7 separate regions of the Homo sapiens genome follow, and all the other regions are linked to region 2. Evidence: fine-mapped expression QTL. A gene starts in region 2. Each other region holds a variant in brackets. All regions are shown on one strand. Distances are between the middles of the regions. Region 1 holds the start of LOC124904734 (a long non-coding RNA gene). Region 2 holds the start of PLA2G4C (phospholipase A2 group IVC). Region 3 overlaps PLA2G4C (phospholipase A2 group IVC). Region 4 has its middle 29 kb from the start of ZSWIM9. Region 5 overlaps LIG1 (DNA ligase 1). Region 6 overlaps ZSWIM9 (zinc finger SWIM-type containing 9). Region 7 overlaps NUCB1 (nucleobindin 1).

Region 1 (4,506 bases), 95 kb after region 2:
CCCAAAGCAGCCCAGTTACTTATTAACATACTGCTTTTTCCAGTGACACGTGTTCACAGTTATTAAGTCGATCTCCCGCCAAAATAGAAGCTCTATTTTGTTTTCCATTGTATCCCCAGTGCCTAGAACAGTGCCTGTTGCAAAGTAAGCTTTGAGTTAAAAAAAAAGATGAAAGAATGAAAATGGCAGACTGCCTAGCAGAACTAGCCCTTCCCGATGTTTCATTGTTGCTATAGTGACGATCCAGTCTGCACGAAGATCCCAGCTTCCTTAACCTTGTTCCTACCTCCAGCCAGCTCACCCATTGGCCACCTGTATCTCCTGCTGTAGCAGCCAGAAAGCTACAACTCCCAGCCGGCTGAGCGCCACCAGCGCTTTCGCGTCCAAGTCCCTTTGCTGAGTGTGAGGGCCTGCGCAGTAGAACCCGCGGGCCCAGAGCTCCATCTGAGCATGTGCAGGCTGCGGGGTGTTTCCTTCGTCTGCTGGCGGGAGAGGAGTGGGGAGGAGCTCTTTACCCGCTGAGCATTGTGGGGCCCGCTTGGATCTCCTTGTCCAAAGGGTCTGGGCGCCGGGGCTGCAGTCTCTGGGTGAGGAGGCGGACGCGGGAAACCTGCTTCGGTCTCCATGGTTACGAGCCGCTCAGCGCGCAGGAGGGGGATTCAAAGGTTGGCGTTGCCACAGTAACCCTGGAGTGGAAGGAGACGGGGATTAGAGACCTCGCGGGAGAAATTAGACTAACAGCCTGGGAACTGGAGGGATGGAGGGTGTGCCGGAGGAATCAGTCTGCAGTAAGGGGAGTTGGGGTGATATTAGGGGAAATGGGATGTTTTCAAGGACAGGGAGTGTTTTGGTGAATTCCTATGTAATAAGGAGATTTGGGGAGATCATTGAAATCGACAAGTTACTAGATACTTGGGATGCTCAAGGGGAAGTGGAAACGCAGTAGGATCCGCCCGCCTCAGCCTCCCAAAGCAGTAGGGAAAATTGGGGTATTAAGCTCTTTTGCCATTCTGCAGTTATTATAGAGCTCCTGCTGGAAGCCAGGCACAGTTGACAGTACTGGTAAACAGGACAGATGTGACTATAGACGGAATTGGGGTTTCATGGAGAAGGGGAGGTATAAGAAAAGGGGACTGTTGTCCTCTATGGGAGGGACTGGGAGGCGATTGGGAAGAACTGGCGCTGTAAAGAGAAGCTGGAAGTTTTATAAGGGAATTGAGGTATTATATAAGTTAATTCTGTTGTTATTTATAGAAGGCCAACTCAGTAGCAGCCTCTAGGAAGCACTGAGGATTCCTCAGTATGCAAAGGCATTTAGTGATAGAGTTACCAGATTTAGGGGGAAAGCAATGGCCAGTTAAATTCTAATTTCGGAAAATGCATAATATTGTAGTTACTCTCTGTTGTTTATCTGAAATTCAAATTTAGCTGGGCATCCTGTATTTTATTTGGCAGCTCTCATTATGGTTAATTTAAGTGTTTGTGAAGAGTGGGTTATTATAGGGGAAACAGGTATTATAGAGTAATTGGGTTGTAGGAGGAGCTGGGGATAGTCAGGAAAAGTCGGAGTGTTGAAGCTAACGCCAAGATCAGCACTGACTGTGTGCCAGAGACTATGCTAAGTACTCTTATTTTTAAAAACGTTTTATTATGGAAAGTTTCGGCCATATACAATTGTTTGCTTGTTTTTGAGATGGAGTCTTACGCTGTCGCCCAGGCTGGAGTGCAGTGGCATGATCTCTGCTCATTTCAACCTCTGCTTCCCGGGTTCAAGCGATTCTCCTGCCTCAGCCTCCCGAGTAGCTGGGATTACAGGTGCGCACCACCACGCCCGGCTAATTTTTGTAATTTTAGTAGAGAAGGGGTTTCACCATGTTGGCCAGGCTGGTCTTGAACTCCTGACCTCAAGAGATTCACCCACCTCAGTCTCCCAAAGTGCTGGGATTATAGGCGTGAGCCACTGCGCCTGGCCCATATACAATTGTTAAACAGATAATATATAATAAAGCTACTTGTACCCATCTCTGCTTTACATGAGTGCTGTTGAGGCATCCCAACATTCCTATGAGGTAGCGTTACTGTCACACCCCCATTTTACAGATGAGGAAACTGCACCACAGAGAGGTTAAATAACTTGGCCAGAGGTGTTAGAACCAGAATTTGGACCCACACAATCGGGCCCCAGAGTCTGGGCTCTCAGCTGCCATATCACATGTAACCTCCGTCTGGGAAATGTGAGTAGGGAGTGAGGCATGATGGGAGCAACAAGAGAGTAGTAGTAAGGTATAAAAGGAAAGGTAGGGAATTGGGCCGTTTGAGCATTGTGCAGTTGTTATAGGATTTTTATTTTTATTTTTTGAGACAGAGTCTCACTCTGTCACCCAGGCTGGAGTGCAGTGGTGCAATTTTGGCTCACTGCAACCTCCACCTTCTGAGTTCAAGCAATTCTCCTGCCTCAGCCTCCCAAGTAGCTGGGATTACGGGTGTGCGCCACCATGCCTGGCTAATTTTTGTATTTTCAGTAGAGACGAGGTTTCACCACGTTGGCCAGGCTGGTCTCGAACTCCTAACCTCAAGTGATCCACCCGCCTCAGCCTCCCAGAGTGCTGGGATTACAGCCGTGAGCCATCGCCCCCAGCCAGTTGTTCTAGGATTTTTATAAGATGTTTTGGGAGACTGGGGGAGTTACAGAAGAGTTTGGTGTTTTGAAACATTATGGGAAGTTGTATAGTTGCATTTCAATAGAACAGTAGCAGCTAGCCACATGTGGGTGCATTACATTAATTATAATGAAATAAAACTCAGCACATTTCAGGAAGCGCCTACCGTATTGGATAGTGAAGATCTAGAGCAGTCCCA[A/G]TGAGTCTGGATAACAGGGATTTAGGGTAACCAAGGGTTAAGGCACAAGCAGGTGCAGCCAGTTCTAGGCAAGATTGGGCAGCATCCAGGCCACATCCTCACTCCTGTGATAACAAGACAGAAGTCTCCACTTCAGCCTCTTGATTGGTCACGGGCCAATCCTTCATAGGGTGTAACCAACTGGAGGCCTCTAAAGGGCACCTAGGGGTGTTACCAAATTCTTTTAGCTTAATGAAAACTCTAAAGAGCACTGCAGTCAGGGGCTCTTGAGCTACTTGCTCAAGCCCACTCCGACTCTGGAGTGTACTTTCACTTCCATAAATCTGTGCTTTCGTTACTCCGCTCTTTTGTTGCTTTGTTTGTGCATTTTGTTCAATTCTTTGTTCCACACACCAAGAACCCTAACAACTCACAGTCAGGACCTTCCATAGGGTAACACCATCACTGCAGAAAGTTCTGTTGGACAGCCCTGATGTGTGGGGTGACAAGTGTGGAGGCTTTCCTGGCTCCTAAAGTTCGACCTTATCTCTTAGCGATTGCTCTCGTACTTCCTCTGACTCACCCCTAACCTTCTCCTCTCTGTTCTACTAAAAATACAAAAATTAGCTGGGCGTGGTGGTGGGCACCTGTAATCCCAGCTACTCAGGAGGCTGAGGCAGGAGAATCACTTGAACCCGGGAGGCGGAGGTTGCAGTGGGCCGAGATCACGCCACTGCACTCCAACCTGGGCGACAGAGAGACTCTGTCTCAAAAAAAAAAAAAGAAAAGAAAAGAAAAAAAAAACCATGCTGAATTGGCCAAATATTTATCTAGGACTTCCCAGCCTGAGAACTGTAAGAAATAAAATTTTACTCTTTAAGCCACTGAGTCCATGGTATTTTGTTATGGCAACCTGAGCAGGATAAGGTAGTATACATACCTTTAACTTCACTGTGTAACTTCAGATTAATTTCCAAAATCAAGCATTACCTAACCAACAGCAGAACTTACATTTGTGCTCCATATACTCACCAGTAGTAGGCATTACTGACTTCTTAATAAATGGAAGTTTGATGAATATAAAATGTAGTATTTTTATGGCTTTTAATGAGGTTTCTGATAACTAGACGTATGAAATTCTACTTTTGTTCATTGTCCATTGCGATTTACAAACTGTAACATTTTACTCATAACGTTTGCCCATTTTTCACAAGGAGTTTTCTGTTTGTTTACTCATGTTGAATCATTTTTATGTATTATAAATATCACCTGATATTTACATCTTCTTCTTAGTAGCTTCATTCTAATGAACTTCTTCTTTTTTATTGTTGTTTTTCTGTTTTTTTTTTTTTTTTTTTGAGACAGAATGAGACTCTGTCAGCCAGGCTGGAGTGCAGTGGTGTGATCTTGGCTCACTGCAACCCCTGCCTCCCAGGCTCAAGTGATTCTCATGCCTTAGCCTCCCGAGCAGCTGGGATTACAGACATGCACCACCATGCCCGGCTAATTTTTGTAATTTTAGTAGAGACGGGGTTTCACCATGTTGGCCAGGCTGGTCTCGAGCTCCTGGCCTCATCTGATTCACCCACCTCGGCCTCCCAAAGTGTTGGGATTACAGGCGTGAGCCACTGCATCCGGCCTTCTATTTTTAATTTAGCATCCTCAAAT
Region 2 (4,556 bases):
AGGAGTTGGAGACCAGCCTGGCCAACATGGTGAAACCTTATCTCTACTAAAAGTACAAAAGTCACCTGGGCATGATGGCGGGCGCCTGTAATCCCAGCTACTCAGGAGGCTGAGGGAGGAGAATCACTTGAACTCAGGAGGTGGAGGTGCCAGTGAGCAGAGATCATGCCATTGCACTCCAGTCTGGGCAACAAGAGTGAAACTCTGTCTCAAAACTAAATAAATAAATAAAAAGTAAATGAATGTGGCTTCAATCTCTCAACAAGGACTGGGGGTCAGTTTTCTTTGTCTCAAAGTTTAACTATGAATTAAATTCCTCTCATGGTAATTTTGGCCTCTGCACTAGAATAAGAAAAAAAAATCTAGCCTGTGAGGTTAGAAACAAGATGGTCAGTCATGTTAGCTTTCTCTCATTACTTACATTTCTGCGAAGGCAGTTTCAAGACCCCCCTTATGAAATTAATCAGCTTCCCCCCACCACCTCCAAATTCATATGTTGGACTTGTAACCCCCAGAACCTCAGAATGTGACTGTATTTGGACATAGGATTCTTTTTCGTTGTTTGCTTTTTGAGACAGGGTCTTGCTTTGTCACCCAGGCTGGAGTGCAGTGGTGTGATCGTGGCTCACTGCAGCCTCAGCCTCCTGGGCTCAAGCGAGCCTCTCACCTCAGCCTCCCGAGTAGCTGGAAGTGCAGGTACATGCTACCATCTCCAGCTAAATTTTTTATGTTTTGTAGAGATCAGGTCTTGTTATGTCACCCAGGCTGGTCTTGAACTCCTAGGCTCAAGAGAGCTTTCCACCTTGGCTTCCCAAAACGCTGGGATTATAGGCATGAGTCATCGCACTCGGCCAGACATAGGCTCTTAAAGGGGTGACTAAGTTAAAGTGGGGTCCTGAGGGTGGCCTGGAATTTGGTTTGATTGGTTTATTTTATTTTATTTTTTTTTGAGATGGAGTCTCGCTTTGTGCCCTAGGCTGGAGTGCAGTGGCGCAGTCTCGGCTCACTGCAAGCTCCGCCTTCCGGGCTCACGCCATTCTCCTGCCTCAGCCTCCGGAGTAGCTGGGACTACAGGCGCCCGCCACCACGCCCAGCTAATTTTTTGTATTTTTAGTTGAGACGGGGTTTCACTGTGTTAGCCAGGATGATCTCGATCTCCTGACCTCAGGATCCGCCCGCCTCGTCTTCCCAAAGGGCTGGGATTACAGGCGTGAGCCACCGCGCCCAGCCTGATTGGTTTTATAAGGAGAGATTAGGGCCTCTGCAAGAGGCTTCAGGAGAAACCAACCCTGCCAACACCTTGATCTTGGACTTCTAGCTTCCAGAAGTGTTAGAAAATAAATTCCTAGCCGGGCGCGGTGGCTCACGCCTGTAATCCCAGCACTTTGGAAGGCCGAGTGGGGTGGATCACGAGTTCAGGAGTTTGAGACCAGCCTGGCCAACATGGTGAAACCCCATCTCTACTAAAAATACAAAAATTAGCCGGGTGTGGTGGTGTGCGCCTGTAATCCCAGCTACTCGGGAGGTTGAGGCAGGAGAATCGCTTGAACCCCGGAGGCGGAGCTTGCCGTGAGCCGAGATCGCGTCACTGCACTCCAGCCTAGGCGACAGAGCGAGATGCTGTCTCAAAAAAAAATAAATAAATAAATAAAATAAAATAAAATAAAAAAGAAAAAGAAATCCTGTTATTTAATTGCACCCAATCCCTGGTACTTGGTTATGGCCGCCCCAGCGGGATGAAACAGCCCTCCCTGCCCCCACGGCTTGCCTGAGCCTGGGTCTGGGGCGTGTGCGCATGCGCGGTGGAGCTTGTGCTCCGGAATCCGGTGCGGAGGCTTGGGCTCCCTGCGCTTAGCGGTGTAGTCGCTGGACAGCTCCTTCAGCCGGAATCTCCGCGGGTGAAGACTGCGGGGATCCTCGGTGCCAAAGCTTCTGTGGTCCTCCTGCTTTCCTTTTCCCCCTGTGGGAGGAGGTCGCGGGCTGGAGGTGTTTCCTCCTGGTCCTGAGCAGGGCCAACCTGGAGGTAAAATGGCCCCTGCGCCTTTAAACAGCCCTCCTCGGCTTGTAGGCCCTGCTTGGTTGCTCCAGCTTTTTCAGCTGTTCCAGAGCTCACCCGGAGCTATTTTCATCCGTGGGATCACGTGGAGGGCTGGGACTTTCCAGGCTTCCTTAGTGATGTCACCCTTCTGTCATTAGGCACCCGAGACCAGTATTCAAAAAAAGAATGTTGTCGTTATATAACTATATTGGAGATAAGTATTCCTCAAAACAGATTAGCTAATCCTCCTATGCATCTGGCTGTCTAATAACCATCATATATAATATCATACTCAAATACCCAGAAAAAGAAATATTGAGGCCAGGCGTGGTGGCTTACGCCTGTAATCCTAGCACTTTGGGAGGCTGAGGCAGGCGGATCATGTGAAGTCAGGAGTTCGAGACCAGCCTGGCCAACATGGTGAAACACCTTCTCTACTAAAAATACAAAAATTAGCTCGGTATGGTGGCGTGTGCCTGTAATCCCAGCTACTACTCGGGAGGCTGAGGCAGGTGCTTCATCCTGGGAGGTGGAGGTTGCAGTGAGCCAGATCCTTAGGGCCAACTCTGGTTCATTTAATGTCCATTTTTAGAAAACCTGTGAGCTCCATTCACAGTGAAGGTTTGAAGCCCAGAAGTGGCCTCCCAACAGGGTACCACATTTCCCAGCACCTTTGCAGCTAGGTGTGGTCATGTGAGCGAGTTATGTGGTCATGTGACCGAGTTCCAGTCAGTGCAATCGGGCATCTGTGGGGAGCACCGCTTCCAAGAGTGGCTCCTAGAAACCTCCCATACTACCCTCCTGCCTACTCTTCCTGAAGCCCAGCACTAAGCGTCATCCCAACTCGATGGGTTTTGAATTTTTTTTTTTTTTTTTTGAGATGGAGTCTTACTCTTTGTCGCCCAGGCTGGTGTGCAGTGGTGCAATCTCGGCTCACTGCAACCTCCGTCTCCTGGGTTCAAGCGATTCTCCTACCTCAGCCTCCCGAGTAGCTGGGAACATAGGCATCTGCCACCACGCCCGGCTAATTATTTTTGTATTTTTAGTAGAGACAGGGTTTCACCATGTTGGCCAGGCTGGCTCGAACTGCTGAACTCAAGTGATCCACCTGCCTCGGCTTCCCAAAGTGCTGGGATTACAGTTGCGAGCCACCGCACCCAGCTTGAATTCTTATTTTTTAAAAATAGATATGAGGCCATAATCCTAGCACTTTGGGAGGCCAAGGCAGGAGTATCACCAATTTTAGAACAGGATTTCACCAGGGGGAAGATGGTCTCCCCTGCTCCCCCTAACGCCAGGCTCACCTCTTCAGTGCCCGCAACTCCAACCATCGCAGGATCTTTTCACTCCTAGACCTGACCATGCCACTGCCCCGCCTGCGGGATAAGGTTCTACACCTCGCAGGAGCTCATGAGGCTCTCCACAGTATAGTTAGTAGTTATAGATGCAGGGTCAAGGAGCTGACAGCATGGACCAAACCCTGGCCCACCACTTCCTAGATAGTGGACCTAGGGAAGGTAACTTACATCCCTGTGCCCCTCAGTGTCCTCACCTGTTAAATGGGGAGAATAAAAGTACCTACCTGGTGGAGCCATCATGAGGGTCACTGAGGAGTGAGGATGACCCTGACTAGCTTCAGCAGAGGGACATGGCGGCCGTGTGTGGCAGATGTGTTCCTGGGGCCCTGCACTGGTGCAGGGAGGAAGAGCCAAGCCCAAAGGAACCATGGTCTCCACACAAAGCCAGTAATGTGGGGATCCCCTGACATACAACATTTACTTTTTTTTTTTGCCTTAAACATTTTATTTGAAATTGAAACACAAATGCACACTAATTTGCCAGTTCTTTAAGGCAGAGCTGTATCAGGAACTCTTAGCTATGAGAAACAAGTCTTTTTTTTTTTTTTTTTTTTTTTTGAGACGGAGTTTTGCTCTTGTTGCCCAGGCTGGAGTGCAATGGCTCGATCTCGGCTCACTGCAACCTCCTCCTCCCGGGTTCAAGCGATTCTCCTGCCTCAACCTCCTGAGTAGCTGGGAGTAACAGGCATGTGCCACTACGCCCGGCTAATTTTGTATTTTTAGTGGAGACGGGGTTTCTCCATGTTGGTCAGGCTGGTCTTGAACTCCCGACCTCAGGTGATCTGCCCGCCTCGGCCTCCCGAAGTGCTGGGATGACAGGCATGAGCCACTGTGCCCGGCTGAAAGCCATGTTTTAGAGTGGCATAATCGCCCTGGGGCTTATTCTTCCCCTACTCCCATGAACAAAAGCCCACAGTTAGGCAGCTGCTGCCCTAGGTTCGCCGGTTTAGGGTCGTCAGGAGAGTTTGTTACTCTTTTTCCTCATCATTACAAGGTGGTGACTTGGCTCCAGCCATCATCTCTAGTCAAGGCAGGAGGAGGGGAGGAGCTGCCACAACCAGGGCTGTCCTTTTTGGTCAGGAAAGATGTTTCTCCAGAAGTCCCCAGCAGCCCCTGTGCTTATGTCCCCTGGGTCTGCCCACACAGGGCTACAGGGCCAC
Region 3 (4,556 bases), 31 kb before region 2:
ATTTTTCACAGAGTGTCAGTTTGAACTCCGATCCTGCCCCTCCTGGCTGCGTGGCCTCAGGCACCTGGGAGAGTCCATGCTCCTCTCCATTCCCAAAGGAGCACCACATGAATCAGACACGTAAAGTTTTTAGGACAATGGCTGGCTTCAAGCCAGTGTGCAGTCCACACTATCATTAGGGATTCATGGCAAAGTAGGATGCTTACCTTCTGGGGGAGGATGTTCCCCTTGTGAACTTTCTTGCAGCCTCAGTAATCGGGCTGCAAAAGAGCAGAGGCAGGGGGAATGTTTAACTGTAAAGTCACTAGTTATAGAAAATACAGATTACCTGCAGCGACGTCTCTTTAATAGAAATGGCAGCCATGGGTTGGAGTCTGTTGATACGGGTTCTGGAGAGCTAATTTTGTACCCGTCTTCCAACTCTGTGCTCGCTGACCTCATGTTGGTAGCTTGAAATTTGCCATGATGTGATCAAGTGGGTTTCATACTAGGAATGCAGGGATGGCTTAACATATGCAAGTCAACAAATGTGATATATCACAGAAACAGAATTAAAAACAAAAATCATAGGAGATGCAGAAGCATTTCACAAAATCCCACATCCCTTTATGATTAAAGCCCTCAACAAAATCGGTATACAAGAGACATACTTCAATGTAATAAAAGCCATCTATGACAAACCCACAGCCAACATTACACTGAACAGGGAAAAGTTTAAAGCATTCCCCCTGAGAACTGCAATAAGACAAGAATGCCCACTCTTATCACTTGTATTCAACATAGTACTGGAAGTCCTAGCCACAGCCATCAGACAAGAGAAAGAAATGAAGGGTATCCAAACCAGTAAAGAGGAAGTCAAACTGTTAGTGTTCACTGATGATATGATTGTACACCTAGAAAACCCTAAAGACTCATCCAAAAAGCTCCTAGGTCTGATGAATGAATTCAGTAGAGTTTCAGGATACAAAATCAATGTACACAAACAGTAGCACTGCTATACACCAACAATGACCAAGCTGAGATTCAAATCAAGAACTCAACCCCTTTTACAACAGCTGCAAAAAAATAAAATAAAATACTCAGGAATATACCTAACCAAGGAGGTGAAAGACTGCTACAAGGAAAACTACAAAACACTGCTGAAAGAAATCATAGATGACACAAACAAATGGAAACACATCCCATGCTCATGGATGGGTAGAATCAATATTGTGAAAATGACCATACTGCCAAAAGCAATCTACAAGTCCAGTGTAATTCCCATCAAAATACTATCATTTTTCACAGAACAAAAAATCCTAAAATCCTTTTTTTTTTTTTTTTGAGACTTAGTCTCGCTCTGTTGCCCAGGCTGGAGTGCAATGGCCAATTTTGGCTCACTGCAACCTCTGCTTCCCAAGTTCAAGCGATTCTCCTGTCTCAGCCTCCCAAGTAGCTGGGATTACAGGCGCATGCACCATGCCTGGCTAATTTTTGTATTTGTAGTAGAGATGGGGTTTCGCCATGTTGGCCAGGCTGGTCTCAAACTCCTGACCTCAGGTGATCCACCCGCCTTGGCCTCCCAAAGTGCTGGGATTACAGACGTGAGCTACCATGCCCAGCCACAATCCCAAAATCCATATGAACCAAAAAAGAGCCCTCATAGCCAAAGCAAAGACTAAGCAAAAAGAACAAATCTGGAGGCATCACATTACCCAATCAAATTATACTACAAGCCTATAGTTACCAAAACAGCACGGTACTGGTATAAAATTAGGCATGTAGAACAATGGAACAGAATAGAGAGCCCAGAAATAAAGCCAAATACTTATAGCCAAGTGATCTTCGACAAAGCAAACAAAAACATAAAGTGGGGGAAAGGACACCTTATTCAACAAATGGTGCTGGGATAACTGGCAAGCCACATGTAGGAGAATGAAACTCGATCCTTATTTCTCACCTTATACAAAAATCAACTCACAAATTCAATGTGAATTTGCATCAAAGACTTAAATATAAGACCAGAAACCATAAAAATTCTAGAAGATAACATCAAAAAAACTCTTCTAGATGTTGGCTTAGGCAACGAGTTCATGACCAAGAGCCCAAAAGCAA[A/G]TGCAACAAAAACAAAAATAAACATATGGATATATGGGAACGATGGCTCACGCCTGTAATCCTGGCACTCTGGGAGGCCCAGCTGGGCGGATCTTCAGGTCAGGAGTTCCAGACCAACATGACGAAACCCCATCTCTATTAAAAATACAAAAATTGGCCAGGTATGGTGTTGGATGCCTGTAATCCCAGCTACTCAGGAGGCTGAGGCAGGAGAATTGCTTGAGTCTGGGAGGCGGAGATTGCAGTGAGCCGAGATCGTGCTGCTGCACTGAAGCCTGGGTGATGGAGTGAGACTCCGTCTCAAAAATAAACAAATATATGGGACCTGAGTAAATTAAAAAGCTTCTGTACAGCAAAGGAAGTAATTATCAGAGTAAACACACAACCCACTGAATGCGAGCAAATATTTGCAAACTAGGCATCCACAAAAGACGATTATACAGAACCTATAAGGAACTCAAAGAAATCAGCAAGAAAACGAATAATCCCACCGAAAAGCATCCCAATGATATGAATAGACATTTCTCAAAAGAAGATATTCCAGTGGCCAAGAAACATATGAAAAAAATGGTCAGCATCACTAATCATTAAAGAAACGCAAATGAAAGCCACAATGAGATACCATCTTACTCCCACAAGAATGGCCATTGATAAAAATTCAAAAAAAACCATAGACGTTGGTGTGGATGCGGTGCAAATGGAACACTCACACACTGCTGGTGGGAATGTAAATTAGTACAACCTCTATGGAAAACAGTATGGAGAGTCCTCAGAGAACTAAAAGTAGATCTACCGTTCGATCCAGCAATCCCACTACTGGGTATCTACCCAAAGGAAAGGCAGCCATTATATGAAAAAGACACTTGTGGGCTGGGTGCAGTGGCTCACGCCTGTAATCCCAACACTTTGGGAGGCTGAGGAGGGGAGATCACTCGAGGTCAGGCGTTCAAGACCAGCCTGGCCAACATGGTGAAACCCCATCTCTACTAAAAATACAAAAATTAGCTGGATGCGGTGGTGCACATCTGTAGTCCCAGCTACTTGGGAGGCTGAGGCAGGAGAATCACTTGAACCCACGAGTTGGAGGTTGCAGTGAGATTGCACCACTGCATTCCAGCCTGGGCAACAGAGCGAGACTCTGCCTCAAAAAAAAAAAAAAAAGACACATGCACATGTATGTTTATAGCAGCACAATTCACAATTGAAAGATATGGAACCAGCCGAGCATGGTGGCTCATGCCTGTAATCCCAGCACTTTGGGAGGCTGAGGCGGGTGGATCATGAGGTCAGGAGATCGAGACTATCCTGGCTAACACCGGTCTCTACTAAAAATACAAAAAAAAAAAAAAAAAAAAAATTAGCTGGGCGCAGTGGTGGGTGCCTGTAGTCCCAGCTACTCAGGAGGCTGGGCCAGGAGAATGGCGTGAACCTGGGAGGCGGAGCTTGCGGTGAGCCGAGATCGCGCCACTGCACTCCAGCTTGGGTGACAGAGTGAGACTGTCTCAAAAAAAAAAAAAGATATGAACCCACCTAAGTGCCCATTGACAAATGAGTGGATACAGAATATGTGGTATATAAACACCATGGAATATGACTCAGCCATAAAAAAGAATAAAATAATGTCTTTTGCAGAAACTTGGATGGAGGCCATCATTCTAAGTAAAGTAACTCAGGAATGTAAAACCAAAAACCATATGTTCTCACTTATAAGTGGGAGCTAAGCTATGGGTACGCAAAGGCATACAGAGTGGCATAACGGACTTCAGAGATTCAGAAAGAGGAGGGTAGGGAGGTGGGGATAAAAAACTACACATTGGGGCCAGGAGTGGTGGGTCATGCCTGTAATCCCGGCACTTTGGGAGGCCGAGGCAGGTGGATCACCTGAGGTCAGGAGTTCGAGACCAGTCTGAGCAACATGGAGAAACCCTGTCTGTACTAAAAAAATACAAAATTAGCCAGGCATGGTGGTGCATGCCTGTAATCCCAGCTACTCGGGAGGTTGAGGCAGGAGAATGGCTTGAACCCAGGAGGTGGAGGTTGCGGTGAGCAGAGATCGCTCCATTGCACTCCAGCCTGGGCAACAAGAGTGAAATTCCGTCTCAAAAAACAAGAACAAAAACAAAAAAACACTACACATTGGGGCCAGGTGTGGTGGCTCATGCCTGTAATCCCAGCACTTTGGGAGGCTGAGGCGGGCAGATTGCTTGAGCTCAGAAGTTCGAGACCAGCCTGACCAACATGGCAAAACCTCATCTCTACTAAAAATATAAAAATTAGCCGGGCATGGTGGTACGTGCCTGTAATTCCACCTACTAGGGAGGCTGAGGCAGGAGAAGCACTTGAACCCAGGATACAGAGGTTGCAGTGAGACGAGATCTTGCTACTGCACTCCAGCCTGGGCAACAGAGTGAGACTGTCACAAAAAACAAAACCAAAAAACTACATATTGAATGCAACATACT
Region 4 (4,454 bases), 89 kb after region 2:
TGGGGCCAGATGGATAGAGGAGCCACAATGAATTCATCTCCATAGCAACTCAAGCTTCCTCCTCCATCATCTGGACCAGTGCGTCCCAGTGGCAACTTCTTGACATGAGTCGATTCTACCTTCAAATGACTGACTCATGCCAAATGTCCTGGCCACAGAATGGGCCTGTGACCCAGTCCTGGTCAACGAGTCTGCTCAGGTTGAGGTGGGAGGCTTTTTTATTTTTATATTTTTGTAGAAACAGGGTCTTGCTATGTTACTCAGGCTGGTCTTGGACTCCTCGGCTTAAGCAATCCTCCTGCCACAGCCTCCCAAAGTGCTGGGATTACAGGTGTGAGCCACTGTGCTCAGAACTAGGAAGCTTTTTTTTTTTTTTTTTTGAGTCTTGCTCTGTTACCCAGGCTGGAATGCAATGGCACGTTCCCGGCTCACTGCAACCTCCACCTCCCAGGTTCAAGTGATTTTCATACCTCAGTCACCTGAGTAGCTGGGATTACAGGTGTGCGCCATCACACCTGGCAAATTTTTGTATTTTTAGTAGAGACGGGGTTTCACCATGTTGGCCAGGCTGGTCTCAAACTCCTGACCTCAGGTGACCTGCTCGCCTCAGCCTCCTAAAGTGCTGGGATCACAAGCGTAAGCCACTGCGCCCGGCCTAGGAGGCTTCTAATAAAGATTCTATCACTCCTAAGAAGGCCTAGAGACATGATCAGGCCTAGACCTGCTGATGATTACCTTGGTATGGTGTGATAATGAAGTCCACACTGAGGATGACAGAGCTGAGATGAAGAAAATCTGGATCTTTGCTTGGCTCAGTTGAGTCTCTCGAGTCTGCTCTACCATGGGGCTTCTTAAGTAAAATATATCCTTTTTTGTTAGAGACAGTGTCTCGCTCTGGCCCAGGCTGGAGTGCAGTGGTGCAAACATAGCTCACTGCAGCCTTCCAGCTCTTGGGCCCAAGGGATCCTCCAGCTCAGCCTCCTGAGTAGCTAGGACTATAGGCTCGTGCTACCACCTAGCTAATTTCTTTTTCTTTTCTTTTCTTTTCTTTTTTTTAACTTTTTGTAAAGATGAGGTCTCTTGCTACGTTACTTGGGCTGTTCTCAAACTCCTGGCCTCAAGCGATGCCCCTGCTTCAGCCTCCCAAAGTGCTAGAATTACAGATGTGGGCCATTGCACCTGGCCAATCAAAGATACCCTAATGATTTAGGGAAGTTTGAGTTGGGGTTTCTGTTGTCGCAACTGATGAAGGGGATTTAATTCTATTATAGGTGACAAAGTCCAGGTTGAAGTAGCTCAGCATTTTTCAAACTTTAGCGTGGACGTGAGTCACGTGGGCACCTTCTTAAAATACAGAGTCTGACTCAGTAGGTCTAAGATAGGGCCCAACATTCTAGCAAGCTCTCCGATGATGTGGCTGTGCTGGGTTGTGGAGCACACTTTGAGTAGCAATGAAGGAACTTGAGATAAAAGACAATTCAGGCCGGGTGTGGTGGCTCACACCTGTAATTCCAGCACTTTGGGAGGCTGAGGTAGGTGGATCACTTAAGGCCAGGAGTTCAAGACCAGCCTGGCCAGCAAGGCAAAATCCTGTCTCTACTAAAAATACAAAAATTAGCCAGATGTGGTGGCGGGTGCCTGTAGTCCCAGCTACTTGGGAGGCTGAAGCATGAGAATTGCTTGAACCCAAGAGGCGCAGGTTGCAGTGAGCCAAGATCGTGCCACTGCACTCCAGCCTGGGTGACAGAGCGAGACTCTGTCAAAAAAAA[A/AAAAAAG]AAAAAAGAAAAAAAATGATTCAGTGGTTCAAGTCATGCGAAGTCAAAGGCTTTGATGGCAGCTGACTGCAGGGGCTCAAACAATGTCAGGTTTCCCCTCTCTCGCCTGCTTTTCGTGCGATGGATTTCTTCAAAAGACAGCTCTCTCCTGAGAAAGGGGGGGACTAGAAGTTCCCATATCACACCCTCCTATCTTGATCCAAAAATACCATTCTATCAGCATTCGTATATTAAGTCTCAAGGAAGCAGCAGGTTGGATTTATGGAGGTTATCAGTTATCCATGGCTACATAAATGCTGTGTTAACAACTATAAAACTTCCTAAGTATATAACAATAAACATGTATTTGGAATCAACCTAAATGCCCATCAATAATCATAAGCTAGATAAAGAAAATATGGTACATATACACCATGGAATACTATAGAGCCATTAAACAACTAGATCATGTTCTTTGCAGGGACATGGATGGAGCTGGAGGTCATTATCCTTAATGAACTAACACAGGAACAGAAAACCAAATACTGCATGCTCTCACTTATAAGTGGGAGCTAAATGATGAGAAGAAATGACACAGAGAGAGGGGCAACACACATGGAGACCTACTAGGGGGTGGAGGATGGGAGGAGGGAGAGGATCGGGAAAAATAACTAATGGGTACTAGGCTTAATACCTGGGTGACAAAATAATCTGTACAACAAACCCCCATGATAAAAGTTTACCTATACAACAAACCTGCACATGTACCCCTGACTTTAAAAGTTAAAACAATAATAAAAATGAACACGTATTGCTTATGAGTCTTGGGTCACCTGAGGGGTTGGCTAGACCCTTGCTTTTCAGTGTGGTGCATGCAACAGTGTCATGAACATTCCCTAGGAGCTTGTTAGAAATGCAGATTCTCGGCTGGGCACGGTGGCTCACACCTGTAATCCCAGCACTTTGGGAGGCTGAGGTGGGCGGATCACCTGAGGTCAGGAGATCGAGACCATGCTGGCCAACATGGTGAAACCCTGCCTCTACTAAAAATACAAAAATTAGCTGGGCGTGGTGGCGCACCTGTAGTCCCAGCTACTCGGGAGGCTGAGGCAGGAGAATCTCTTGAACCCAGGAGGCGGAGGTTGCAGTGAGCCGAGATCGCTCCACTGCACTCCAGCCTGTGCGACAAAGTAAAACTCCATCTCAAGAAAAAGAAAGAAAGAAAAAAGAAAGAAATGCAGATTCTCAAACCCATTCCAAAACTACAGAATCAGAATCTCATTCTAACAAGATCCTAGTATGCATGTTATACTTTGAAAAGCAAAGCAACTGATCATAAACCTACAATTATCGGAAATAGGCTTATTTAAAAAAAATGAAAGCAGCTAATCTTGATAAAGTAGCTGATCTTCGTTGGGCTTGCCCACATATCGGGAGTCATCTGGCTTTTGGGTGAACTAAAAAGGCCTTGGCAGGGCTTGGTGGCTCATGTCTGAAATCCCAGCACTTTGGGGGGCCAAAGTGGGAGGACCGCTTGAGCCCAGGAGTTCAAGACGAACCTGGGCAACATAGGAAGACCCCGTTTCTACAAAAATAGAAACAAAATTAGCCTGGTATGATGGTGCACGTCTGTGATCTCAGCTACTCAAGAGGCTAAGGTGGGAGGATCTCCTGAGCCTGGGAGGTCGAAGCTGCAGTGAGCCATGATTGTTCCACTGCACTCCAGCCTGGGTGACAGAGTGAGACTCTGTCTCAAAAAATGCCTTGGCCGGGAGGACTAGGGTAACTCGTTCAGCACGTAGACCCCTCCAGTACAACCCTATGAAACTTCCCTGCAGCCCCTGCCTTTGCAGACAGCTCTTCGTCTGCTGTGCTGCCCATTGCTTTCTTGCAATGTACTATCTGTCTAATAAATCTGCCTTTCTTTCCCTACGACTGTCTTGATAAATGCCTTTACCTCCCATGATACTGGCCCCAGCTAGTCACACCCGTGATGCCCATCTCTTTTTTTTTTTTGAGATGGAGTCTCGCTCTGTCGCCCAGGCTGGAATGCAGCAGCACGATCTCGGCTCTCTGCAAGCTCTGCCTCCCGGGTTCACGCCATTCTCCTGCCTCAGCCTCCCGAGTAGCTGGGACTACAGGTGGCCGGCACCACACCCGGCTAATTTTTTCTATTTTTTAGTAGAGACGGGGTTTCACCGTGTTAGCCAGGATGGTCTCGATCTCCTGACCTCATGATTCGCCCACCTCGGCCTCCCAAAGTGCTGGGATTACAGGCGTGAGCCACTGCGCCCGGAGATGCCCATCTCTTAAAATAAAAAATAAAAAAAAAAAAAGAAAGAGAGAAAGGAAAGGAGGCAGGAGGGATCCTGGGAAGGCAAACAACAGCTATTGAGCGCAAACCAAATCCAAAACTTCTCCACTTGCCTGTTTTATCATTAGATTCTTAGATGTGGGCTATCTGGTTAGTGACGGGAAGCTGAATTAATTCATTAATTGATTCACCAAATAACACACAGAACCCTGGGGTGGAAAAGAGCTCAGCCCATAAGGTAAAGAGAAGATGGGCCAGTGTAGATGGGTCAGAGTGTGAAAGAGGGAGAGATTTGGACAGTGAAATCCGCAAGCCCTTAAAGATAGAAGATGAGGTGAGTCTTTATCCTGGGAGGTATGGGAAGCCTTCAAAAGGTTTTAAACAGAGAGTGG
Region 5 (4,556 bases), 30 kb after region 2:
GCACAGAGCACATGAAGGTGGGCCTCGCGCCTGAAGCGAAACTGCCACAAATGGGAGAGCCGACAGTGTGAGCCTCACCAATGGGATGTTATCGAATCACACATCAAAGGGGACGGGATTCTCCAAAGTGGCCAACAACTCACAACAAACCCGGGACTTGGACAGCCACGGGGGCCACAAGGCGGCACGGAGAGCAGTGTGAGTGTGAACACGACCCATCAAGGGTGGAGGCATGAGACAGTGGAAGAGGCCCCAGCTGCCATGGATTGTTGGGCAGGAAAGCCAGCATCTGCAACTTCTTTTGTGAGAAAAACAGATCCTTCTTTGTCCAAGCCAATGTAGTTGGGTTTTCTGTTACCTGCAGCTCAGAGTATTCTTAACCGACCCCGTGTGTGCTGGGTCTGGTATGACGTCAGTGCTCCCGAAACACATCTTGAGTGAATGAGTGAGAAAATCTTGAGTCTCATCTCCTCTGGCTCCCATAAGCCCGTAACTCTTTCCTGATCCAAGTCAACCTTTCTCAGTCCCTCTGTCCTCTCATGAAAGCCTGAAACCCCTGCCTTCCCTAAATGTTGGTGCCCATGGCCCTAAGCCAGCTCCAGTGCTCCCAGCACATCCTCTCCCCAGGCGGATGAGAACCCACCAGTGGGTGGTCATCCCTCCTACACTGACCAGCCCGAACCCTGGGCTCTGAGCCAGACCTGGTGAGCCTCAGACCCGTTTCCAAACTTCCTGGATGGCCCTGGGGGCCCACAGATAGAGGTTGCTCATGCCTGCCCCACGCTGGGGTGATTAATGCCCCCTGCAGGTGCCTGCCCCTCACCAGGGTCCCAAGCTGCCGACGGCTTTGTCATCCATCCAGTCACCCAGGGAGATCCTGGAGGCATTCCTCCTGCCTCCTCACCCTGACATCCACTGTCTGCCAGATCTCTCCTGCCCTCTTCTCTCTTCTCTACAGCTGGGGTCCAGCTCCTCTTCCCCCTGGATGCTGCCCCTTGCCTGCTCACAATCCTTCCATGGCTCCCCAGTGTCCTCATGATAAGCACCGAGCACTCCAGGCCCTTGGCAGGCGGGCCATCCGCATCACCAGCCTTTCCACCCAGCACTGGCGGCTGGGCCCCTTCAGGCTGCTGGCCCCCCACACACCATGTTCTTTCCTCCCACTCCTTCCAATCCCTCCAGTCAAAGTCCTTTCAGACCTCTCTAAGCCCCAACCTTCCATCTCAGCCCCCAAATCCTGCTGTCTCTGCCTCCAGCATCTTTCCCCAGCCCTCCCCTTCCCTGCACCCCACACCCCCTGTCCCAGCACATGCCTGGTCCTCCCTCACCTGAACTGCTGCCCCTGTGTTCTCTCCCACACCCCTGCAAATCTGTCCCCATCAGGCTCTCCTCCCTCTCAGCCTTCTCCTCAACCCTGTTTCACAGCCTCTCTCCACCATCTCTCCGATCCACCTGACCTCTGCATTTTCTCTGGCTGAGCTCCTGTCCTTCTGGTCCCTCCAACCACAGTCCCCCTTACCTGTGGCCTGGGCCACTGCCTTGAGAAGGACACCATCACCCACGCCAAGCTCCAGGCCCTGCTGGGGTGGCCCAAGGTGGTTGAGGCTGAGGTAGAGGACAGGGAGGAGGTCTGGAGGCGACAGGGCCACCACGGAGCGCAGCAAGTTGCTCAGCGTCTCCACCATCCGGAGCCTGGAGGAGGGGACGGGGGTATGAACACGTGGTTCCTCAAGGTCAAAGTGTGGTGTCGGGGTGGGGTGGGTTTAAGGGGGTGGACACTAGAAAGAAATGGAGAAAGAAGAGGAAAGGGCTCAGAACAGTCCCAGGCTCTGGGGCCTGGAGCCATGAGGACAATCACAGATTGCTGGAGGTGAAACCGCCTTTGCAAAACCGTAACTGAGGAAATTATGACAGTGGAAAGAAATCACACCTAACCGATTCCATCTTGCTTCTAACCTTTAAGCTGTCCTTGTTCAGTCCTGGGCATAGGCAGAACTAACTTTGGGAAGGAATTTGGTTCGTGGCTTGACTCTGAAACGAAATTGGTAATAGCCCTTTCTGGAAAAGACCCCTTTTTGCCTAAGGACCTGCCTTCGCAAGACTCACAAATTAGCTACAAGATTAGAAATTTAGGTTTAGGGGTCACGCAGCCTCTGGCTTCCCCGATTGCTCCTGGGGATAACATCACTACTGTAAAACCTAAGATGAGTGCTTAAGATAGTTTGCAGACCCTGCACTCAGTCTGACGCCACCCAGACTGTAATCTGGCTCAACAAGTTCTGCCATCCCACCCAGGAACAGAAGACAGCAAGAAAACCTCCCTTCGACCCCCTGTGAGTCCATCTTCAACCTGACCAATCAGCACTCCCCACTTACCAAGCCCCTACACGCCAAATTATCTTTAAAAACTCTGCTCCCCACATGCTCAGGGAGACTGATTTGAGTAAAAATGAAACTCCGGTCTCCCGCACAGCCAGCTCTGCGGGAATGACTCTTTCTCCACTGCAGTTCCCCCGTCTAGATAAATCGGCTCTGTCTAGGCAGCGGGCAAGGTGAACCCACCGG[A/G]CGGTTACAGTGGGGGAGTAACTTGGTGTGACGGTAACAATGATGAAGATGGTGATGATCAGCCCAGAGAAACGACAGCTGATGCTACGGAGCATTTTCTAAATTCAGGAGCTGGCTTTGAGCACTTTGCACCTTTTTTTTGAGACGGAGTCTCGCTCCATCGCCCAAGGTAGAGTGCAGTGGCACGATCTCGGCTCGCTGCAACCTCCACCTTGTGGGTTCAGGTGATTCTCCTCCGGAGTAGCCGGGACTACCGGTGCGCACCACCATGCCCGGCTAATTTTTTTTAATTTTTAGTAGAGACGGGGTTTCAACGTGTTGGTCAGGCTGGTCTCGAACTCCTGACCTCAAATGATCCGCCCGCCTCGGCCTCCCAAAGTGCTGGGATTACAGGCGTGAGCCAACACGGCCAGCCCTTTGCACCTTTTAACTCATAGAATCTTCACAGCTCCCCTCTGAGGTAGGTACCATTATTATTTCCATTTTACGGATAAAGAAACAGAGGCACCGAAAGAGTCCGTGGCTTGCCCAAGGTCACAGAGCGAGTAAGTATGAAGCTGAGATGTACACCAAGGCCGTGTGCCTGAGGACTGTGCTCCCAGCCACCAAGCTGCACCACCTCTAAAACGAAAACCGTGTTTCTGTCTAAAACTTCAAAGCTGGAAAGAATGGCTTTGTTACTGAAAAACTTAGGGGGCCTCATTAGAAACAGAAGCTGGGTTTTTCCTACAGAAGTCTCATTACCGAGGTTTTTAAGGTGCAGAGAAGAAATACAAAAACCAACATCAGGGAAATCCCTCAGTAATCATTGTAGGCAAAAGCCACCATTGGATGGTGCAGTGGATGGAACAGCCCCCCCAAAATTCAGGTCCACTCAGAGCCTCACAACATGACCTCATTTGGAAAGAAGGTCTTTGCGGATGTACCTGTAGATTAAGATGAGAGCATAGTGAATGAAGGTAGGCTCTGAATCCAAAAAGCATCCTTACAAAATACAGAAGAGGGCCGGGTGTGGTGGCTCAGGCCTGTAATCCCAGCATTTTGGGAGGCCGAGGCGGGCCGATCACTTGAGGTCAGGAGTTCAAGACCAGCCTGGCCAACATAGTGAAACCCCATCTCTATTACAAATACAAAATTAGGGCCGGGCGCGGTGGCTCACACCTGTAATCCCAGCACTTTGGGAGGCGGAGGTGGGCGGATCACGAGGTCAGGAGATCAAGATCTTCCTGGCTAACACAGTGAAACCCCATCTCTACTAAAAACACACACACAAAAAATTAGTTGGGCATGGTGGCAGGTGCCTGTAGTCCCAGCTACTCGGGAGGCTGAGGCAGGAGAATGGTGTGAACCTGGGAGGCGGAGCTGCAAGTGAGCCGAGATTGCGCCACTGCACTCCAGCCTGGGCAACAGAGCAAGACTCCATCTCAAAAAAAAAAAAAAACAGAGTGCTGGGAACAGCCTGAAATGCTCCACTCATGTTGGGGAACTGAGAAATGGCATGTGCCATGTGAGAACGAAGGGACACTACAGAGCAGTCACAACAGGCTCGAACCACTCAACCAACATGGACACATGTGGAAACGGGTTTGATAGTGAAGGCAAGCAGAATGAGCCGTACCCATGATAATTTTGTTTGTTTGTTTTTGAGACAGAGTCTCACTCTGTCACCCAGGCTGGAGTGTAATAGCGTGATCTCGGCTCACTGCAATCTCTGCCTCCTGGGTTCAAGTGATTCTCGTACCTCAGCCTCCTGAGTAGCCGGGATTACAGGCACCCGCCACCATGCTGGGCTAATTTTGTGTTTTTAGTAGAGATGGGGTTTCACCATGTTGGCCAGGCTGGTCTTGAACTCCTGACCTCAGGTGATCCACCCACCTTGGCCTCCCGATGTGCTGGAATTAAGGCATGAGCCACTGCACCCAGCCTCCATGATAATATTTATATAAACTAAATACACAGGGGCGAGTGCTGGGGGTGAGGAGGACAAGGAG
Region 6 (4,556 bases), 76 kb after region 2:
CTCAGCTGTTCTTCCCTGAACCCACCCTCTGCAGGATTGTCCCTGTGCAGAACAGCTCATTCATAGATCAGAGCCTTCCCTGGAAGGGGAGTTGTCTTTTCATTTTGAAGGCTGTCTTGGAATCTCGGCTAAACCACGGTTGGCTCCTGCGTCTGTGTTTTGACCTGCTTTCATACTTTTTTTTTTTTTTTTTTTGAGACGGAGTTTCGCTCTTGTCACCCAGGCTGGAGTGCAATGGCGGAATCTTGGCTCACCGCAACCTCCGCCTCCCGGGTTCAAACGATTCTCCTGCCTCAGCCTCCTGAGTAGCTGGGATTACAGGCATGCGCCACCATGCTAATTTTTGTGTTTTTAGAAGAGACGGGGTTTCTCCATGTTGGTCAGGCTGGTCTTGAACTCCTGACCTCAGGTGATCCCCCCGCCTTGGCCTCCCAAAGTGCTGGGATTACAGGCATGAGCCACCGTGCCCAGCCCCTTAATGCTCTTGAAAGAAAGGAGGAAGAAGTTCTAGGACAGGAGAGACAGATTAGTGAAGCAACATTTAAATATTTACTTTTTGAATATGTCATACATTCACATGGTTCTAAAAAAGGTATGTGGTGAAAAGTCTTATCACATCCTGTCCCCCAGGTCCCCTCCCCTGCAGAGTTATTAGCAGCTTATAAATCATATCTCGCTTTCTATCCTATGGACCAGCACTGCCCGGTGGAACTTTCTACAATGATAGAAATGTTCCTTATCCAGGCTAGGCATGGTTACTCACACCTGTAATCCCAGCACTTTGGGACTCTGAGGCAGATGGATCACCTGATGGCAGGAGTTCGAGACCAGCATGGCCAACATGGCAAAACCTGATCTCTACTAAAAATTCAAAATTAGCCAGGCATGGTGGCAGGTGCCTGTAATCTCAGCTACTCGGGAGGCTGAGGCACAAGAATCGCTTGAACCCAGGAGGCAGAGGTTGCAGTGAGCTGAGATTATGCCACTGTACTCTGGCCTAGGTAACAGAGTGACACTCTTGTCTAAAAAAATAAAAAGAAAGAAAATGGTTCTTATCTGTACTGTCCAATCCAGAGGCCACTGGCCACACATGGCTACAGAATGCTTAATGAGGCCAGTATGACTGAGGAACTGAATTTGTCATTTAATTTATCGAAATGTAAACAACCTAATGTAGCTAGTGGCTTCTGGATTGGACAGCGCAGCTCTGCACATATACAGGTCAATTTGCATGTCTGTATGTTTAACTTTAATTTTTAACTTTATTTCCTCTTTCTGCCCCGCCACCCCCCACCCCCAGCAAGCAGGGCAGCCTAGTGTACACGCTGTTTTTGTTTGTTTGTTTGTTTGTTCTTTGAGACAGGGTTTCACTCCTGTCACCCAGGCTGGAGTGCAGTGGCACGCTGTTGGCTCACTATAACCTCCACCTCCTGGGCTCAAGTGATTCTCCTGCCTCAGCCTCCTGAGTAACTGGGACTATAGGCATGCACCACCATGCCTGGCTAATTTTTGTATTTTTAGTAGAGACGAGGTTTCACCATGTTGGCCAAGCTGGTCTCAAACTCCTGACCTCAAGTGATCCACTCACCTTGGCCTCCTGAAGTGCTGGGATTACAGGTCGGGGCCACCACACCCGGCCTGTACATGCTGTTTTGCATCTTGCTTTATACGTTGGGGAGTGCCAGATGTCACCATCTTTCGTTCTTCCTCTGGGGCTGGTCAAATCCCCCTGAGAAAACTCCTCTGGCCTCCTGGCGGGGGGTGAAGGCCAGGCTGCCAGGGCCAGGCTGCCAGCTTCTGGGAGCTGCAGGGGCAGAGGCAGGGAGCTGTCAGGCATTCAGCCAGCAAGACGCACTCAGTACCCACTTGGGGTTCAGAATCCCCCTCCCTCATCTTCAGATGGGCCAGATGTCCCCAAAGCCAGCGGCCCCTTTCTGTTTCACCCTGTCTACAGAATAAACCCCCAGTCACTGGGGGTGGGGGAAGAGTAAGGGGAGAGGGGAAACGAGATTTGGAGGTCTAGCTGCTGCTGAAACAGCCCTCAGTTCGTCTTTATTTTGCCTTCTGCAAAACTGGCCTGGTGTTGCCAGCTCCTTTTGAGGACTTTGCTACCGGTTCTCAGCATCCCTCAATTGCTGGCTTAGGATTCATGGGTTTTTAGGGGTGGGGTGGGATTAGCATGTCCAGCTGCTTTCCAGTTTCCAAAGTTCTGTCCCTATCATATTGCCTCTGATT[T/TA]AAAAAAAAAAAAAAGCCATTTTAAAAAAAAGATGTAATTGAGGTTCAAGAGAGAGTGAAACTAGAGAGGTGTTCAATCCATCACTTTTACACAGAAATTTCACCTTTTTTTCACTTATAAAATCTAATGAAAGAGTTCTATATTATTATGTTAATAATACAGTAGTAATATAACAGTATAATGTAATAATTAATATATTATATTAATTATATATTATAATTATATATTATATTATATTATATATATTATATATTATATATTAATTATATATATTATATATATTATATATTATATTATAATATATTATATTATATTATATATATTATATATTATATTATTATTATATTATATTATATATATTATATATAATATTATATATATTATATATTATATAATATAATATTATATATTATATTAATATTATAATATGTAACGCATAACATGTAATATTGATAATATAATAGGTGCGATGGCTCACACCTGTAATCTCAGCACTTTGGGAGGCCGAAGCGAGAGGATCACTTGAGCCCAGGAGTTCAAGACCAGCCTGGCCAACATAACGAGCACCTGTCTCTACAAAAAATTAAAAAAAAAAAAATTAGGCATGGTGGCATGCATCTGTAGTCCCAGCTACTCAAGAGGCTGAGGCACGAGGGTTGCTTGAGCCCAGGAGCTTCAGGCTGCAGTAAGCTATGATCACACCACTGTACTCCAGCCTTGACAACAGAGTGAGACCCTTTAAATAGATAGATAGATAGATAGATAGATAGATAGATAGATAGATAGATAGACAGACAGACAGCAAGCTTTAAATTTTCATCCCAAGCCTAGGTCAAGCAACAATCAGTCTTTCCACTTCCCAGCAGTCTTCCAAAGGAAGGATTATTTGTAAAAAGTGCCTGCACTTCCTGAGTTGGGTTGCTCTCTTGATCTTTGGAGGGGATCAGACAAGAAGGATGCGCCCAAAGCCACAAGGCATGATTTAAGGGCAAGACTGGGGGGCGACTTCACCCAGGGAGGTGTTAATACCTTTTTTTTTTTTTGAGATGGAGTCTCGCTCTGTCTCCCAGGCTGGAGTGCAGTGGCGCAATCTTGGCTCAGCACGACCTCCATCTCCCAGGTTCAGGTGATTCTTGTGCCTCAGCCTCTTGAGTAGCTGGGACTACAGGCGTGCGCCACCAGGCCTGGCTAATTTTGTGTGTGTGTGTTTTAGTAGAGATGGGGTTTCATCATGTTGGCCAGAATGGTCTCGATCTCCTGGCCTGGTGATCTGCCTGCCTCGGCCTCCCAAAGTGCTGGGATTACAGGCGTGAGCCACCGCACCCAACCTTTAACACCTTTTATCACCTGCCCTGCCTGATGATGATGGGCTTTGGGGTCCAGTCACATCTCCATTCCCTCACTTGTGGCAGGCACCAGGGTAACCAGCAAGCAAGCCCTGAAAAGAGAGACCTTGCCCGGAAACGTTGCAGCGTTCTCTTACGTGTATGCTTTGCCTTCTGAGAATGGCGAGCATTGATGCAAGTGTATCCCTTTTAAGAATACTCAATGGGGCCAGGCGTGATGGCTCACACCTGTAAGCCCAGCACTTTGGGAGGCTGAGGCGGGTGGATCACGAGGTCAGGAGATCGAGACCAGCCTGGCTAACATGGTGAAACCCCGTCTCTACTAAAAATACAAAAAATTAGCCAGGTGTGGTGGCAGGCGCCTGTAGTCCCAGCTACTTGGGAGGCTGAGGCAGGAGAATGGCGTGAACCCGGAAGGCGGAGCTTGCAGTGAGCTGAGCTCACACCACTGTACTCCAGCCTGGGTGACAGAGCGAGACTCCATCTCAAAAAAAAAGAATACTCCATGGGAAGCTGGTATGATCTCAGTGGAGGGCAATTTAGCAATATCTATCAAAATGACAAGAACACTCACCCTTAGGCTCACAATCCCACTACTGGTGATTTATCCTGCAGATGTAGTTGCACAGCTGTGGAAGGACTTACTTACAAGGTTAATCATTGTTGTTTGTGAAAGCAGCAGATTAGAAACAACCCAGACTCCACCAACGGGTAATGGTTACATAACTTGTGGTATATCCATCCATGGATTACTACACAGCACTAAAAAAGAATGAGAACTTTGGGAAGCCGAGGCGGGCAGATCACAAGGTCAGGAGATCAAGACCATCCTGGCTCACATGGTGAAACCCTGTCACTACTAAAAATACAAAAAATTAGCCAGGCATGGTGGCAGGCACCTGTAGTCCCAGCTACTCGGGAGGCTGAGGCAGGAGAATGGTGTGAACTCAGGAGGCGTAGCTTGCAGCGAGCCA
Region 7 (4,556 bases), 800 kb after region 2:
CCTCCCAAAGTGCTGGGATTACAAGTGTCAGCCACCGCACCCAGCTCTTCTTATAGTGATACCCACCGTAATCTAGCAGGCCATCATCTTAACTAATTACATCTGCAAACACTCTATTTCCAAATAAGATCACATTCTGAGATTCCAGGTGGACATGAATTTGGGAGTGTGGGGGGAGTATACTGTTCAACCTGGTATTGTTAACTCCATTTTACAGAGGTGGAAACTGAGGCACAAAGAGGCTGAGTAACTTGCCCAGTGTCACAGAGCTTATGAGATTTGGTCACAAAGCAAAGCCTAGATTTGAACGCTGGGCAAAATAGTTAGAAACCTCTTGTTCTTTTTTTGGTTTATTTTTACTTTTTTTTTTTTTTTTTTTACCTGAGACAGCGTCTTGCTCTGATGCCCAGGCTGGAGTGCAGTGGCATGATCACAGCTCACTGCAGCCTCAACCTCCTGGGCTCAAGCAATCCTCCCACCTGACCCTCCTGAGTAGCTGGGACCAGAGGTGCAAGCCACCGCACCAGGCTAATTTTAAAAATTTTTAGTAGACACAAGGTCTCGCTGTGTTATGTGAGTTAGTCTTGAACTCCCGGGCTCGAGTGATCCTCCCACCCTAGCCTCCCAAAGTGCTAGGATTCCAGGCGTGACCCACCTCTCCTAGTCTGACCTTATGTTCTTGGCCACCTAGCTGTACCTGAAATACATAAATACTAAGTTCACCACATATGTTGTTCCTATTTACTTATTCCTCCAAGATCTGGAGATTGTGGAGGACTTGAAAGAGGTGGGTTGAAGTTGCTATTGTATAACCGTCCCAATCTGTTTTGAATAAAGAGAAGAAAGTGTGTTATGGGGCAGGAGCAGTCATGGAAACCAAAAAGGGCGACATCAGGCTGTGCGCGATGGCTCACGCCTATAATCCCAGCACTTTGGGAGGCTGACGTGGGCGGATCACCTGAGGTCAGGAGTTTGAGACCAGCCTGGCCAACATGGTGAAACCTCGTTTCTACTAAAAATACAAAAATCAGCTGGGCCTGGTGACACATGCCTATAATCCCAGCTACTCGAAAGGCCGAGGCAGGAGAATCACTTGAACCCGGAAGACAGAGGTTGAAGTGAGGCAGTGAGCAGAGATTGTGCCACCGCACTCCAGCCTGGGCAACAGAGCAAGACTCCCTCTCAAAAAAAAAAAAAAAAAAAGGGACATTAGGACACGAGACGTAAGAAAGACAGGTAGAGGCTGGGGCTGCCCTCAGCCAGGTTCAGGGCCAAGGGCCTGCCATTTACAGGCTGGAATTGGGGGCTGGGCAGAGGGGGCAGAGGGGAATGACCCTGTGCCTTTCCCCAGGCCACCCGGGACCTTGCCCAGTACGACGCAGCCCATCATGAAGAGTTCAAGCGCTACGAGATGCTTAAGGAACACGAGAGACGGCGTTATCTGGAGTCACTGGGAGAGGAGCAGAGAAAGGAGGCGGAGAGGAAGCTGGAAGAGCAACAGCGCCGGCACCGCGAGCACCCTAAAGTCAACGTGCCTGTGAGGACCCCATTTGTGCCCATCCACTCCCTACCACATCCAGTTCAAACGCAAGACAAGAAAGCAGTTAAAGAACTACAATTCCCAGGGGCCCTTGAGGCAAAAAAACTCCCTGTTACTGTACCTGGCTGCCCCAGGGTCTGCTGGGAGTTGTAGTTTTCTTAGTTTTCTTGCTTGAGGGAGATGATGTTTGTTGGATGAGGGTAAAGGGATATTTGGTTTTATCCCATGGCATCCAGACTTCTTGCTCATGAGCTCCTGGCTCTCCCCTCCACAGGGCAGCCAAGCCCAGTTGAAGGAGGTGTGGGAGGAGCTGGATGGACTGGACCCCAACAGGTTTAACCCCAAGACCTTCTTCATACTGCATGGTAAGGTGGGGAGGGAGTTCCAGAGCCAGGATGAACCCTAGATTCTGACCCTTCTAGGACCTGAATGCTAAGAGGGGTGTGTCTGTCCCAGGAGGGCTTAGTCAGGCCCAAGAGCCAAGCCTATGTCCCCTGGTTGACCAGACAGCCCTGCCTCTCCCGACTACAAGGCTAGGATCTGCATGGAAGGGTTGGGCCTCTTTTCTAGCAAACACCAGACCTCGGGGTTCTAAGGACAGCTGGTGTCCTCTGTAAGCAAACCAGGCTTGGCTAGGCCTGGGCCCTCTGCCCACAGCAGCCCAGGAGAAGCCCTGGTCCACTCTGGGAACCCTGTCGCTAGGAGTGGGTTGTTCCCTAAGAACCAGGCCTCCAGAAGCCTGGAAAACCCTTTCTCTTTTTCTTTTTCCTTTTTTTTTTTTTTTTTGAGATGGAGTCTTGCTCTGTTGCCCAGGCTGGAGTGCAGTGGCATGACCTCGGCTCACTGCAACCCCCTGCCCTCCGCCTCC[C/T]GGGTTCAAGTGATTCTCCTGCCTCAGCCTCCCGAGTAGCTGGGATTACAGGCATGCACCACCATGCCCGGCTAACTTTTGTATTTTTAGTAGAGATGGGGTTTCACCATGTTGGCCAGGCTGGTCTCGAACTCCCAACCTCGTGTGATCTGCCCCCTCAGCATCCCAAAGTGCTAGGATTACAGGCGTGAGTCACTGCGCCCGGCCTCGAAAGCCCTTTCTCTATGGTGGATCAAAGGCACACTCCCCTCAGTCTGTCTCTTCCTGTCTGGAAATGTGGCCTGGGGTTGCCAAGCCCCCTCAGGTATGCCAAGCACCCTGTCCCAGAATCTGTAGCCGGTCAGATAAGCTTAGCAAGGCCTGACTCATTCATTCAGCAAACCTTTCCTAAGTTCCCTCTAAGGACCAAGCTTTGTCAAGACCCCGTGGATACAACTGTAAACAAAACAAAGTACCTCCCCCTCAGAGCCAGTGATCAGGCACACAGATCATACCATACTTTAGTAACTCCACGAGACTGTACAGTATGAGAGGTGCTAGCATTTTACGTAAGCTGCCAATTAAATTAACGTACCATTGAAAACAAGATGCGTCCTGGGCTGGGTGTAGTGGCTCATGTCTGTAATCCCAGCACTTTGGTAGGCCAAGGTGGAAGATGGCTTGAGCCCAGGAATTTAAGACCAGCCTGGACAACAAAGTGAGACCCTGTCTCTATTTAAAAAAAAAAAATAGACCAGGCGTGGTGGCTCACGCCTATAATCCCAGCATTTTGGGAGGTTGAGGTGGGAGGATCACCTGAGGTCAGGAGTTCAAGACCAGCCTGGCCAACATGGTGAAACCCCATCTCCACAAAAATACCAAAATTAGCTGGGCATGATCGTGAGTGCCTGTAATCCCAGCTACTCAGGAGGCTGAGGTGGGAGAATCACTTGAACCCGGGAGGCAGAGTTTGCAGTGAGCCAAGATCGTGCCATTGCACTGCAGCCTGGGTGACAGAGCAACACTCCATCTCAAAAAAACAAAGAAAAAAATAAAAATTAAAAGTTAAATAAATAAAGATACATCCCTATTTCAGGGGTGATAAAATAGAAGAACACAAAAGTGCATCTCAGAATCAACGAAGGTTCTAGGCCGGGTGTGGTGGCTCACGCCTGTAATCCCAACACTTTGGGAGGCCTAGGCGGGTGGGTCCCTTGAGGCCAGGAGTTGGAGACCAGCCTGGCCAACATGGCAAAACCCAGTCTCTACTAAAAATACAAAAATTAAAAAACAAAACAAAAATTAGCCAGGCATGGTAGTGCTCACCTATAGTCCCAGCTACTCAGGAGGCTGAGGTAGGAGAATCGCTTGAACCCGGGAGGCGGAAGGCGGGGGTTGCAATGAGCTGAGATCACACCACTGCACTCCAGCCTGGGCAACAGAGTGAGACTCTGTCTCAAAAAGCAATAGAAAGTAAAAAAGAATTAGAAGATTCTGTAATGGGGTCTCAGGTAGTGACGTGTACTACCTCGCAGCCTTGACCACCCAGGTTCAAGTGATCCTCCCCCTCAGCCTCCCAAGTATCTGGGACCACAGGCACGTACCACTATGCCTGGCTAATTTTTTTAATTTTTAGTAAAGGCAAGGTTTTACCATGTTGCCCAGGCTGGTCTCAAACTCCTTTGCTCAAGCGATCCACCTATCTTGGCCTCCCGAAGTGCTGGGGTTACAAGCATGAGCCATCCCACCGGGCACCACCCCCCGTGTTTTGTTTTGTTTTTTTTTTGAGACAGGATCTTGCTATGTTGCCCAGGCTGGAGTCAAACTCCAGGCCTCAAACAATCCTCCTGCCTCAGTCACCTGAGTAGCTGAGACTGCAGGTGTGTGCCACTGCGCCCAGCTTTAAAGATGTTTAATTGTACAGTTCAATAGTATTAAGTATATTTACACTGTCATGCAACCAATTCTGAGAGCTCTTCATCTCGCACAACCGAAACCGTATCCATTAAACCACTCGCCCTCCCCTTCTTTCCCCTGCTCTCTAGCAACCACCATTCTATTTTCTGTCTCTATGATTTTGACTATTTTAGGTACTTCATGCAAGTAGAATCTTTTGGTATTTGTCGTGTGTGTGTGTGTGTGTGTGTGTGTGTTTGGCTTATTTCACTT

What was found. PIP is the estimated chance that this variant, and not a neighbour inherited with it, causes the effect.
Region 1: its variant is fine-mapped to the expression of PLA2G4C in whole blood (TOPMed, PIP above 0.99).
Region 3: its variant is fine-mapped to the expression of PLA2G4C in whole blood (TOPMed, PIP above 0.99).
Region 4: its variant is fine-mapped to the expression of PLA2G4C in whole blood (INTERVAL, PIP above 0.99).
Region 5: its variant is fine-mapped to the expression of PLA2G4C in whole blood (TOPMed, PIP above 0.99). The same link has a PIP of 0.9 or more in blood mononuclear cells.
Region 6: its variant is fine-mapped to the expression of PLA2G4C in whole blood (INTERVAL, PIP above 0.99).
Region 7: its variant is fine-mapped to the expression of PLA2G4C in cerebellum (GTEx, PIP above 0.99).

Annotation. Positions count from the first base shown.
Region 1 is chr19:48,203,558-48,208,063 of GRCh38, forward strand. It overlaps LOC124904734 (a long non-coding RNA gene), which reads left to right and starts at 604. Exons shown (of 2, transcript XR_007067282.1): 1 at 604-665; 2 at 3,628-3,718. It also overlaps a transcript of CARD8 not described here. RefSeq lists an enhancer at 533-702. The variant A/G (reference allele first, on the strand shown) is at 2,860.
Region 2 is chr19:48,108,719-48,113,274 of GRCh38, forward strand. PLA2G4C (phospholipase A2 group IVC) reads right to left here and starts at 2,099. Exons shown (of 17, transcript NM_003706.3): 1 at 1,769-2,099. RefSeq lists an enhancer at 1,915-2,074.
Region 3 is chr19:48,077,565-48,082,120 of GRCh38, forward strand. It overlaps PLA2G4C (phospholipase A2 group IVC), which reads right to left. Exons shown (of 17, transcript NM_003706.3): 11 at 207-260. Among named protein-coding and RNA genes, the nearest start is that of PLA2G4C-AS1, 18 kb to the left of the region's middle. The variant A/G (reference allele first, on the strand shown) is at 2,095.
Region 4 is chr19:48,197,727-48,202,180 of GRCh38, forward strand. No RefSeq gene overlaps it. Among named protein-coding and RNA genes, the nearest start is that of ZSWIM9, 29 kb to the left of the region's middle. The variant A/AAAAAAG (reference allele first, on the strand shown) is at 1,770.
Region 5 is chr19:48,138,452-48,143,007 of GRCh38, forward strand. LIG1 (DNA ligase 1) reads right to left here. Exons shown (of 28, transcript NM_000234.3): 12 at 1,520-1,692. Among named protein-coding and RNA genes, the nearest start is that of LIG1-AS1, 5.1 kb to the right of the region's middle. The variant A/G (reference allele first, on the strand shown) is at 2,566.
Region 6 is chr19:48,184,962-48,189,517 of GRCh38, forward strand. All of the region lies in intron 3 of ZSWIM9 (zinc finger SWIM-type containing 9), which reads left to right. Among named protein-coding and RNA genes, the nearest start is that of ZSWIM9, 17 kb to the left of the region's middle. RefSeq lists an enhancer at 1,782-1,841 and a silencer at 3,435-3,667. The variant T/TA (reference allele first, on the strand shown) is at 2,236.
Region 7 is chr19:48,911,660-48,916,215 of GRCh38, forward strand. It overlaps NUCB1 (nucleobindin 1), which reads left to right. Exons shown (of 13, transcript NM_006184.6): 6 at 1,352-1,537; 7 at 1,815-1,905. All of the region lies in intron 1 of NUCB1-AS1 (NUCB1 antisense RNA 1), which reads right to left. Among named protein-coding and RNA genes, the nearest start is that of NUCB1-AS1, 5.0 kb to the right of the region's middle. The variant C/T (reference allele first, on the strand shown) is at 2,409.